Linked DNA regions of Homo sapiens. The protein of the gene in region 1 purifies or fractionates together with the protein of each later gene. This does not show direct contact. Each region holds a gene or a part of one and is shown in the gene's direction. Other genes may lie near its edges. The genes, in order: ZDHHC23 and POF1B.

Region 1 (6,063 bases):
CCAGGTAAGCACAGGGCTGCTGGGGTTGGGAGTCGTCCATCGTCTTTTCATTCCTCAGCATTGGACTGGAAAGAATGGAGATTAGTAACTTTAGCACTGTTCCTCGGCATCCACCTGCAGCTTCCTAGAAGACATTTATAGCAGTCCCTTGGTGCCTTTGTTTTCTCATGAGTTAGATGTAATTTACGAATTACTTGTTTATTTAACAAACAGGTGTTGAACGCTGTTATGTCAGGCAGCGTGCTGGGTGTGTGGAGGGTACAAAATGCAAAAAACAGTCCCTGCTATTCTAGTGTAATATACTAGAAAATAGGCACCAGTAATTATAGAATAAACACACACATTCTCCTACTTAAGCAGGTTATTGGCATTCTGAGTATCTTCCAGTTCGGAGGGTTGGGGAAGATGCCAAAGTCTTTAGTAATAAGTAAAAAAATGTGTAAAACGTGAGAATGATGACAGTTTTCTGAATTTGACAAAAACGGCAGCCCTGACAGCCTTTTTCCCTCTCCTAGCTCGGCTCTGTCCTTCACCTGCGTGTGGTACTCTGTGATCATCACAGCAGGCATGGCCTACATCTTCCTGATCCAGCTGATCAACATCAGCTACAATGTGACTGAGCGGGAAGTCCAGCAGGCCCTCCGACAGAAGACTGGGCGCCGGCTCCTCTGCGGGCTCATCGTGGACACAGGCCAGTACAATAGGGGCTTCCTGCGGAACTGGCACCAGTTCTCCACCCTGGGCACACGTGCATTCCACCACCCTGCCGAGGACATTGTCTGAAGTGCCTTCTATGTGGCTCTCTGAGGGATGATGGCTCCTCCTTCCGTCTCCCTTCCATTTTACACTTCAGTGTCCATTTCTATCCCCAGTTTCTTAAAGGCATTATAGGGCCATGCTCAGGTTTAGAGACTGGAGTGGGAAGAAGTTAATTTTTCTGACGCCACAACTTAAGAGACTTTTATACTGAGGCAGTAAAAGTAGAGCCATTCCTTTCCAGTCACCTTTTTAATTGACTCAGTTGCCTGAACTTGAGAAGGATGTGGATTGCTAATGCACAAATTGATAGAAGCAATTCCCATCCATTAGTATGGAGGAAAGAGTGTTGGATTAGGATAGTTTCTAGTCCCTCTTTCGATTCTTAATAGCCATGTGACCCCTAGCTGAGTCACTTTCCCAAGTCTCAGGGTCATCTGCAAAGTGGGGTACTGATGCCTGCCCTGGCTACCTCACAGAGCCGTCATGAGGGTCACGTGAGGGAAGATGGATGTGGAAAGCACTAAAAAACAACTCAAGAGCCATGGAAATACAAAGTATTAGGAAAATATTATGATGGAAGAAAAACGTTTATAGTCTAGAATATTGAAGCCAATATTATTAGGGTAATCAGTTTTCAGCATATACCTTGTTGTACAGTTATGAGAATTTCTCCTTCTTATTAGACATGAACTACTCAAACAGAGAAGATGACCAGATGGATTGATGCTAAGTTGTCTCATCTTGAAAAGACAGTTGACAACAGTTATAAAGATAATTATTGCTAGTGTAATGTAGTGTGGCCATGAGTTTAGGTGATGAGTTCTTCTATTTATATTTTATAAATTCTGCTTGGGTTTCTTATAAATAACTCCAACAGGCATTCATGTGTTTTTCCTCTTCCCATGTTTCACCAGGTAAGGTGCTAGCACACTTGTGACTGTGGCTGGAAGAGGAGAACAGACACTCCTGTGGGGATGCTTTACTCTCTTTTCTGGTAGGAAGGCTGAGTAACATCACGGGCTCGATTATTTTCTTCATGTATTTCAAATGCTGTCAGTTATAGCACTAAATTGTGAAAATCAGCCTTCTGGCATTCACATTATTCTGGTATGAACTTTGAGGAGTTGAGTGACATCTTCCCACTTAACTTGCACATTAATTCTCAATTACCCCTCCCTAAATAACAGTATCTCACTAAGAGAGAAGAAACAGGGTATATGTGGTTTCCACTATTAATGGATTACTGTTCTTCCCTGGCTCTTCCGACAATAACAAGTTGTTTCTTTAATCATATCTTAAAACCGAAAATGTATAAAAGATTAAATATTTATGTACAATGGGTTGTTCTACTATAGAATTAAGATGAGGGAATTTCAGATGAGGAAAATACCCTTTTGAAATGTTAGTTTTGAACATGTACTGTTGTGCAATCCCAAAGATAATTCATGACTCCTTAAATTTGCCTTGGCTTATAGCTTAATATAGGGAAAATATTGCCAGCGTTTTCAGTCATTCTGTGCATGCTGCTTTAAGCAAGAGATTTATATTTGTTGAGAGGAAATATTGCTACTTCCTGCACTTCCACCCTCTGCAGCCAGCACCGTCCCTACTGTTGCCATTAATTGGAGCTGTCCTTAAGATGGTCACCATATTCTTATTCAGGCTGTTGTCATTTTCCCCAGAGATGGTTTGTTTAACGAATGATAGGCTCTGTGCCTGGGGATGTTAGCAGACTCTGGGGTTTGTACAGTGATGCCTTCTCCCTGGCCCAGAGCTGAATATTCATCTAGAATTAAAGTTGGATTTGATATAACAAATTTCTTTCTATACAGGTTTTACATAAGAGAGACAGTAATAATGTCAAGGATAGCCTGTGTGGGCAGAAATTGGTAGTCGTGCTTTTGAATGTCAGCTGTAGAGCCAACTCTGATTATCTAGCCATTGATCATACAAATTGATAGAAACATTAGTCAGTAATTTTAGCTTCTTGCCAAATTGTTCACAACATCTAAATGTAATGTGATGTGATGAAGATAAGTAGTACAAAGAGACCAAAATAATTTGGGAGAATTAGGAATGATGACAATTTTTTTTAACAACTTACCTCTAATAGGGTTACTTGGATGAGCCAACTCCGCTTCCTTCCCATGGATAGGAAGGGACTCTGTGTATTATTCAGGTTTATTGGCACGAAGATACTTGTTTTAAGTTCCTTGAGAACCCATGATGGACAGTTGACAGAATGCTTAAACCTGTCAAAAGATGAGTGATCTTGTGTGGGAAAAGCCTTCCCAGGCGTCTGTACCGAAAGGAGCAGCAAACAAGGGGCTAATCCATGAGCAGTGTTCTGTAGGCTCTGTGACATCTTTGGTTTATAGGATTTTGGAGCCTTTTATGATCTGGAACTATTTGAGGGGTTTCATTATAGGCCTTGGTTCTCTCCAGGGGCCAGATGAGTTTATTGTGGAATCTTTGAAAGGACAAGGCCTCTGTGAATGAATCAGTCCCAGGGAAGCATTTGGTGGTGGCGGCAGTGGAGGATTGCCCGGTGAACCTATAAATCAGCAGTCTCTTGGGCAGAGGAGCAAGCCCCTCGAACATGATTTCAAACAAGCAGGTCCTCTTCTCTCATCTCACGTCCTTAGTCTCTGTTAATGAACATACTGGATGTGGAGTTTAATAAATTACCTACTATCATCTGGCCACTTAGATTATTATCACACCACTGTGGACTGTTCCTGGGGGGAGAAGAACAGACCGATTTGAAAGATTCAAGGGAGAAAGATTAAGGATCAGGATTGCATGAAAGAAGAAAATCCTTCAATATTTAAAATGTTTCTTACAATACCCACGGAGCACTTTTATGGTTCCAGCCGAGCGTTCCTGAAATGAACTGACCATTAACAGCGCCTCTTTGATAGGTTACCCTGATGCTGCTAAAGTAAAGCCTTAAGTGTGTTTTTGGGACAACGTGCTGCTTATTCCACCTCAGCCACATATGTGTTTGTGTTTAGGATATTGTAAATCTTTGCTAAGTAGTGTTTTCCTTGGTGAATGAAGTCATTGTTGTCTTCAAGTGTACCATCTGCCTAGCAAAAAATTGCTACAAACTTTCTCTTATGCAATAGTCCTTGGTACTTCTAATATTTTTAGCAAGAGACAATTTTCTGTACTAGAATCTTCCACTGCCAGAAAACACAGTGCCAGTAAGGTTCTACATACCACTGACCATCTGCTTAATAGACATGTATTTCCTTTGAGTAGGACATTAGCTTTTGATTATAAAGCTCAACTAGTATAAGCAAAAATATAACATCTAGAAGCACAGTTTTAGCCAGGATGTTTAAAAATTACAGTTTTGTGAGACTTAAGGGTCTTTTTAACCTAGGTAAGTTTATATGACCTAACTTAATTGTAGCCATATTCTGGTACCTTCCATTTTGAAAAGTAGAGGTTGCTTAAGCAAGCAATGGATAATAAGAGACTTTTCCTGAGGCACCTGTTTGGAATCTGGTTTTCTCAGCGGCAGCTTGACATGTGCACCCTTTTGTATTAAACACTGCAAGGGTGATGCAGGGGAGCAGGAAAGCCATCCTAAACTCACTACTGAGTACGATTCAGTATGTTCCTGTGGATGTCTGCTGTGACTAATATAAATTTCTTGCAGAATCAGCTACACTTAATTATGTTGCTGATAGACAAGCATCCACGCTTCAGCTGGCACTAAGTGTTTTCATTGTAGGATCAGCAGCAGGTTAAAGACTGAACGGTTAGTGAAGACAAATGTCTTAAGAGGCTGCGATGTCTAGGTTGGGCTTGTGACTTCTTAGTGGCCTAGCCTTCTTGATGGCACCTTGAAAGTGAACTTCTAGAAATCTACATTTAAAAGGCAAAGCTTTAAAAGCAGAGCTAGTCTATTCTAGTTACTGATGCAACTAAAATTCTGTATTTCTTAAGATGGAGCCACTGACGAGATGTCACAGTATAGAGCCTGCAGTCTCAACTCATTGTGATCCTAATGGTCTGGGTGATTGGATGGTTTGAGTTGTTAGGGATTTTGAGTTTTTCATTTTATTGCATATCTGGGTTGGATGTTAGACTAAAGGAAACCCAGGAATATTTACCTGGTGTTACATTTAATATTTAATGTAACTGGTCTAGCAACATTAAGGGGGATTTCTGAAGCCAACTCCGGAGGCTGTGGGCTGCACATTTTGCACTGTTTTTATATACTTGTATTCATATCCTCTTATCACCTCAGACTCAGACACAAGGCCTTTTACATGGAAATTTTACAAATTACTTCCATTTATGTAAAATAACGTCCTGTGACCAAGTTGTTTAAATGGAAAATAAAGTGCTTTCTTTAAGGAAAATAGCTGGTGTTTCTTGGAGTGTCTCCTGAAGTCTTCTGATTTCTGAAAACCCTGCATTATACCTGTGCTGCCTCTGTGGCTCCCTCAATGTCTCTATCCTGTGGCCCTGTCCCTAGCCCTAAACTGTTATGTTCCCGGTGGCAATTTCTCCAGTTTTGTGGGTCAGGGATACTGCTTGTTGGGGCATTATGTTAACAGTAACATTTTGAAACATACTTTCATGATAGTCCAGCAAAAAACAGCATCAAAACTATTTCCATTGTATCTCTTTAGAAGGCTCTGTATTCGGTAAAAAGTCTAGCTGGCGCCATTGGAATATGGGCTGCTAAAGACTCAATTTCTAGTTGATGTTTGAGGTGAGGCAAAAATAAAGCTAAGGTAGAAAACTTAAGCTTTGTGGGATTTATTTATGCGCCTGGCATGTTGACTTAAGGAACTCAACCTTATGTACAGGCTTGGCATTTAAAGAAAACTGGTGGCTGGGTGTGGTGGCTCACTCCTGTAATCTCAGCACTTTGGGAGGCTGAGAGGATCACTTGAGCCCAGGAGTTCAAGACTAGCCTGGGCAACATGGTGAAACTCCATCTCTACCAAAAAAAAAAAAAAAAAAAAAAAAAGTTAGCTGGGCATGTAATCCCAGCTATCTGAGAGGCTGAGGTGGGAGGATCACCTGAGTCTGAGAGGTCCAGGATTCAGTGAGCCATAGTCAGGCCACTCTACCTCCAGCCTGAAGTACAGTGACAGAGTGAGACCCTGTCTCAAAACAAAAAAAACACAGAACAAACAAAATAATAAAATTGGTATTTCATTTCCGGGTGCTAATATCAGCCAGTATTTTGTAAATGTACTGTAGTTAGGTTTAAACTGTTAGTGATTTTGATGGAAAGTGATGTATTATGAATTACTTTTAGTTACATTTTCTTTAGTG
Region 2 (7,202 bases), on another chromosome or scaffold:
TCTGTAGCACTTTATTTTCCATTTCTAGCTTTTGAGTACATGCTTTTATTCTCTTAACCTCTTGTGCACTAAAATGGTGTTTATGGATATAAACATATTTTAAATTTATCTAGATATATAATGTTACTTTGTTTCTTTAATTAAACATATATTTTATGTTTTTTGGTTATTATTTTGTTTGATTGATAGAGTGTTTCTCAGAGAAAATTAAGTGTAGAAACCAGTTGCTGGTGAAATTTTCTAAATTAATGGTAGAATTAAAATTACTGGGTTTATCTGCATGAACACGTATAGTCAAACACAGATATAATCAAGGTCTCAGATGCATTTTAGAACTGAATGTGGTCTTGCAAATAAATAGAGTTCTAGAAGCTTAAAGTAAAACAAAAATTCTTAGTTCAATCTTTTACAAAGCTTAGCTGTTAACCTACCATCATTAACTCAAAATGAAATGCCTTAAATGAGCAACATTGATATGAATTACTCATTGGGCTAACATTCTTTCCTTCCACTAATTAAGGTTTTCATGAAGTTCGAGGTATTTTTCATGCATACAGAGCAGCTGTATACATGAGAGAGAAAAAATGTGAGAGAGAAAAAATGGATTAAAATAAAATATTTTTAAATACCAGTCATTCACTGAATACATGTTTATTAAGTGCCTATTTTTTAGCAAACACTGTGATTTTCTGGATAAATACCATTAACCTGTCCAGGGAGAGTTCATTTTTAGGACAGACATACAGAGCCTGGTCTGTAGGTGTCCCATGTGTCTATCTATATTTCATTTTAAAGGAGTATTTTGTGTTGTGACCATCAGCATTTTATCAAGTAAAACATGCTTTTGTGAGAGAAGGATTATTTTAGTGTATATGTTATAAGGGTTGCCATTCTTTTGAATTTGAAACTTGCAAAGAAACTCTAGAGAGCAGCCTGGGGGAAAATGTGTGTTTACGAATGACCTCTGTTCTCAACAATTATTCAGCTGGGGCTTACCTTTGTTTATATGATTTTTTTGTGCTTTTTCTTTGGTTGCAAAGATTGTGGATAACTCTTCTCTTCCACTATCAGAAAAGTTTCCCGTTCTGTGGGGAGGGGTGTGCTGCTTTGATAAATTGTTGTTCAAGGGCGTAGTCACTAAAGTGAATGATTGTTCAAGGAAGTGCGCTGCCTGAAAAAAGAATGAGGTCATAGGATAAAGGGGTTGCATTTTCAGCTTTGGTCTCCTCTTTTGTGCTTACAATTAAATGAAGCTATAGAAATTGGAGAGTGCAACTAATTGCTGAGTGAAAATGCCCATGGCAATTGTATCTTGTTTAACGGAGGTCTGATAAATTGCTGGGCCTGTTTTCAGTCAAAGGCACTCATAAGCTGTCACGGTGTGTGTGTGGCAAGATATGAGGGTGGCAAGTGGAAGAGAGGGAAACTGTCCTTTCAAGTTTATTTTCTTGACAATTCATGACAAAACAATTGGGAAATTTGCCATGCTCTTAAGCCCTATTTAAAAGTTAAAACTTTTATTAATAAATATATTTCAGCCAACTTTTTCTTCAGACCAGGGGCTATCCCAGTAGAGGTCATTTTTTGATTTTCAATAAAGTATATATACTCATAATTTTTAAAGACAGAAAGCATGCACTGCAAAAAAGACTGTGTATTTTATTTTCTCTCTGTCTCCTAGTTTTCTTCAGAAAAAGAAGAGAAAGAACCCAATATGGACCTCTTAAATGAGGGATTTGGGTTGGAGAGAAGGAGGAACAGGAAGTAGTTCTATTATACATTCGGTTGCTTTCTTTGTATGACAACAGAAACACAGATTTTATCCTAAATCAAAGAAGTGTTTATTTCATCTAAAGAGAGATTATTATAAATAACATGTTTCTTGCTATATAAGTTGAGTATAACATCTCAACAATAACCTCAGACAGGTGTTTAACTATGTTACATGGCTTTGAAAGATCCTAACAAAAACATCTCCCATACTATTCAGGGAATTTATTCAAATGGAGGTTTGCCTTGGCAAATTCTGTCAGCATAAATGTCAGGTGGTTTTTAAAGATATTGCTTCTTTTGAAACTGTTCAGCCTAGAGTATTTGTAACTCACCATTATTACCTTCAGTGATTCTCATAGTCATTGGGAGTAACAGGAGCATACACAAACCTTCCATGGTTTTCCTTCATGGAATATTATACTGTATATTAGTCTTTATGTAAAGTTTTAAAATTCAAATTAGACAACATAAAGAGTTATACTTTCATGTTAGCAAGTTTCCAAATATTTAGAAACAAAGCCTGCACTACGTATGTAATATTCTCTATGATTTAATTCTCATTACCTTCAGTCTTTCTTGTATGTCTTACACCAGGCTTTTGAGCTCTTTGACCACAGCTATCAACAGGAAAATGAAGCCAACAGGTCTTGACTGAAGAGGTTCAGATTTTGCAGTCTAAAGACCAATTGCAGAGAAAATTGTATGAAGAAAATGCCCAAAAAGGTCTATGTGGAATGTCTCAGGAAGAGCTGTAAATAAATATGCAATCATGAGGTGAACTTTGGCAGAATAGAACTATGAAGCAGTCTAGTTGGAGTCCCTAGGAATATTAATTTTAAAATCTCCACAACTTTAATTACACCTAAGAATATGTTCTCTAGAAAAGTTGCTTAAATTCCCTATACACATCCCATATCACTCCTCTGCTGCAAAAACCTTCAATGACACTAAGTATCTATAAATTGCTTAGTCTGACTTTCAAGGCCCTCCATGTTAGGGCTCCTGTGGAACTTCCTGGAACTCTCCTTCTGGTGTCCTATGTTTTAGCTAAGTGTAAATGATTGTTCTCTAAATAAAGTCCCCAATTTTCCACAGCTATGTCTTTCACTCCATTGCTCTTACATCTGAACTGCTCCTGCTCCTCACCCTCACCAATCTAGACACCCTGAAATTATACAAATTTTTCAAGCCTTTCCTCAAGTGTAACCTTCTGATCCTCTGATTGTCCCAGGTTGAAGTTATCTCTTAGCCCTCAAAACTTACCTAGTGAGCTTCTTATAGGTCTTATGATAGTCTACTTAATTCCTATTTGTACTCATAGTGTTTATGCCCTACATGATTATAACCATGAGAGGGTAGAGATTATATTCTAACATCATTTGTATCTCTTTCAATGCCACTACACAATAAGTAGTAAAGAAACTGCAAGTTAGTAACTTAGTCACATATATAATCAATCCAGTGAAAATAATATTTCATATTAATACATGGGTTTTTTGTTTTTCACAACTCTTCCATGTATATGATTATCTAGTAAACAACTTGATAGAACCTCAACAATTAGATAAAACATGCATTATTATGTTTATTGTACAAATTGTACGATGTACAAATAAAGACAATATTCATTGTGTATTATTTATCTGTTAAACAAATAAGGAAATTGAGACTCGAATAGCTCAAAATAACTTGCCTATTTAGTACAGCTGGTTAGTGAATGCCCTGAGTTTAAAAACCAGCTCCTGATATTTTCATTACATCAGCTATCTCCCTTAATTAACTTTCGATATTCATGATTTCAGTTTAAATTAGTTCACATTTTTTATTTCAACAAAACATTTGATGATTACCCTTACTGTATATTTTCCCATTCTAATGTTCCATTATCAGAATGGAAAATATCAAAAATACATTAGAGGACAAAAATAGTTTTCCCTCTAGTTTTCAAGGTCTTGCTCAGAAATAATCCTAGAATTCAGGGTATATATTAAGTTTTTAAGGTTTTCTTTCTTTCAAAGGAGAATAACACCTTTTGAGCTTCTGCCTTCCCTTCTTTCTTTACTGCACTGAGCTACTCAAAAGCATTTTCACTAAAGTAAATAACTGAGACATTTAGGCCATTTGCACATCATCTGATTTAACTCTGAAAACAGCTTATATATAAAACTGCCCTTTCTGCACATGTACCCCAGAACTTAAAGTATATATATATATAGTATATATAATATAATATATATAAATATGAATAAAATATATTTATATATATATATACTTTAAGTTCTGGGGTACATGTGCAGAAAGGGCAGTTTTGTTACATAGGTATAAACGGGCAATGGTGGTTTGCTGCACCCATCAACCCGTCACCTACATTAGGTATTTCTCCTAATGTTATCCGTCCCCTAGGTCCCCATCTTCTGACAGGCCCCTGTGTGTGATGTTCCCCTGAAAACAGCTTTTTTAACAAATAGGTGGAAATAAGATATACTTTTATGAATAATGAATTCTCTAGGGAAACCAGAGTTTCCTAGCTCAGATTTAGTGTGTACAAAGGTATGGACAATTATCTCAAGTGATGTAATGAAATTATCCCCAAGCCCACATAATTATAAACCAAATTCTTTTTCATTTCTTTTTTTTTTTTTTTTGAGACAGAGTCTCGCTCTGTCGCCCAGCCTGGAGCACAGTGGCACGATCTCGGCTCACGGCAAGCTCTGCCTCCCAGGTTCACGCCATTCTCCTGCCTCAGCCTCCTGAGTAGCTGGGAATATAGGCGCCCGCCACCACACCCGGCTATTTTTTTGTATTTTTAGTAGAGACGGGTTTTCACCATGTTAGCCAGGATGGTCTCGATTTCCTGACCTCGTGATCCGCCCACCTCAGCCTCCCAAAGTGCTGGGATTACAGGCGTGAGCCACCACGCCCGGCCCCAAATTCTTTTTCACCAGACTCTACTTAAAGTTGCCAATAAAGTATAATGTTTGTGTATATAGCAAGTCTGACCCACAGGAATAAACGACTCAACAAAATGCTGAATATTTTATCAGAAAAAGTAAGGTCTTCCTGCAAAATTGAAGAGATTAGATGATATGAGCATTAAACAAAAATTCAATGGTTTATTGAGTTTTAGAGGCTTGTGAGTACACTCTGTAAATGTACCACGCGTTTTACAAATTCTATTGAGTTTATGGAAACTTAAATTATCTAATCAAGGCTGTTCTCTCACACAGCTACTTGTGGGTGGGTGTCTTATTTTCAGGCCTCCAAAGTTGCTTTTGACACTGAATAATTTTAAAAGTCCCAGTATTTGACCTTCTGTTATAAGGACTAGTCAAACTTAACCATATAATTAGGTTACACAACTTGAAAAACAGAAAATATAATGAAGCAAGCAATAAACGTGGCAAAATATGGTGATTAAGAGCATGAGTTCTGGAGTCATGCTGAGTTGGAATTCCAGCACCTTAGCATTAGCTGTGTAATCTCCATCTGGTTACCTATCCTACCTCTGTCTAACTTCACTTGTTTATGTAATGGGGTTATAATAGTATCTTCTTTATGGGGTTATTTTGAGTGTTAAAGAGAATGATCTATGTAACATGTTTGGCACAGAAAGCTATTAATAGGTGTTAGTCATCATTATAATCATCATCAAAAGGAAAACAATACTGACAAGTTTAAAAAATTTGAAATTGTTTTGTTTGTATGGAAAAATAAGTTGGGAATGGTCTCTTATATTCACAGAACGTCAGAAACAAACTTAAAGATCCTCTAATCCACACTCGCCCACACCCATATCCCATTTCTCATTTCTCACATGAGGAAACAAATCTCAGAGAGAGAACATGAGTTGACCAGTATTACAAAAGTGGCTAGTAGTATAAATGGGAATAAAATCCAGGTCTGCTGACTCCAAGTCTAGCACTTTTTCCACTATGTCATGATAACCACCACCACCCCATTATCGCCTTCAATTATTTGGTCATCAGGAATGTGGGGCTGTGGCACAAAAGGCATAAAAACAAAAACATTGACTGTTCATTGAATTTAATAGTTTCAACATGAAGGATTTAGGTAAGCTATACACAGATGAGTAACAAAATTAAACACTGACTGATACAGGTTATTAAGAGGGAGATTTGGATTGTTATTCCTGGAGTGCTTTTAAAACTAAGATCTCCTTTTCATTCATTCTTTCAAAAATATTTTGGATCACTTTCTATGGAATGGTCAATGGCTATTTATGGGATGACTTGCTGCAATCTTGCCTAGATCTTGATGCCATTGAAAGTACCTTTCAACATCAAGGTTTTGTTCATTCTGGACATTTACTCACACCATCTTACTTAATTTTGTAGACTTCCAGGGAAAAGGGGTTTTCTTTAGCAAGTATTTCTGGAATTAATAAACCTATTTTCAGAGAGGTTTTCCCCCTTATGATCAGCCTAAATCCATACTGATGCAATTTAAATTCATGCTGTTCAACACCATATGTCTAAATATCTTTGACTCATATTAAGCTACATCTTAATGTTGTAATTTTTGAACCTATTATATTTGTTCTCTAATGTTTCCATGAGGGTTGCGTGGGAAAGCCACATTTGTCTAGATGATCAATTTTAATAATGAAGGCTGAAGTAGGGCTAAAAATAATTGAGTACATTATAATCTATGGACTTAATGTTCCAGCTTTCCACATATAAGAAGATTAAAGAATTCCTTCATTTTAGGGCAAGACTAGTCTTTGCTCAAATACAACTGTTTGCCATTTAAACATCTATTATCTTAACATCTGAATAAAGTAATACTGCTTATACTAGCATAAATAAATGTCTTTATCTGTGATGTGTGATGTGTGTGTATTCCTATTTGTTTAAATTTCTGCAGATTTATAAAACTTCTTAGTACGCTTTTGTATCTTAAAAGCTAGTCCAGTTGGCTAGTAAGATTTGCTATGTTTCATTTGCTAATGCCATCATATTTGAATTGGTTACAAGAAGGACAGAGCTATCATTTCTACAACAGCTACCAGATACTAACCATGTGTATAGTTGTCTTCTCAGAATGATACTAGTATAATATTATTAGCCCCAGCCTAAACAGACCAAACATCCTCTAGACATGAATACCTTCACACACTGCTGGTGGATGTATAATTATCATAGTCAAATTTGGGAAATTAGTTGGGCAGTATCTGTTCAAATGAATAACACACATACTCCATGCCCCAGCAATCCCAATTCTGTGTGGGATTCTAAAGAAACATGTTGCACAAGGATGCTCATTGCAGCACAGTGGAAACCTGGAAACAATATAAATGTTAATCAGCAGGAAAACATAAAAACAAGCTATAAAGCAAGCATTTTGGAATACTATTAATTGAAAATAATGAGTTAAAACATGTATCTAGTACATAATACAAGAGATACTGT

What was found.
Region 2: the proteins of ZDHHC23 (region 1) and POF1B purify together in Homo sapiens (affinity purification with mass spectrometry; 2 studies listed by BioGRID and IntAct, with this or other methods). This does not show direct contact.

Annotation. Positions count from the first base shown.
Region 1 is NC_000003.12:113,957,848-113,963,910, forward strand, and holds the end of ZDHHC23 (palmitoyltransferase ZDHHC23), read left to right. Parts: intron 1-515; coding exon 516-783; 3' UTR 784-1,673; coding exon of another isoform or gene 1,674-1,696; 3' UTR 1,697-2,872; coding exon of another isoform or gene 2,873-2,886; 3' UTR 2,887-5,526; downstream 5,527-6,063. UniProt on the Homo sapiens protein: Palmitoyltransferase that could catalyze the addition of palmitate onto various protein substrates and be involved in a variety of cellular processes.
Region 2 is NC_000023.11:85,369,560-85,376,761, reverse strand, and holds part of POF1B (protein POF1B), read left to right. Parts: intron 1-7,202. UniProt on the Homo sapiens protein: Plays a key role in the organization of epithelial monolayers by regulating the actin cytoskeleton. May be involved in ovary development.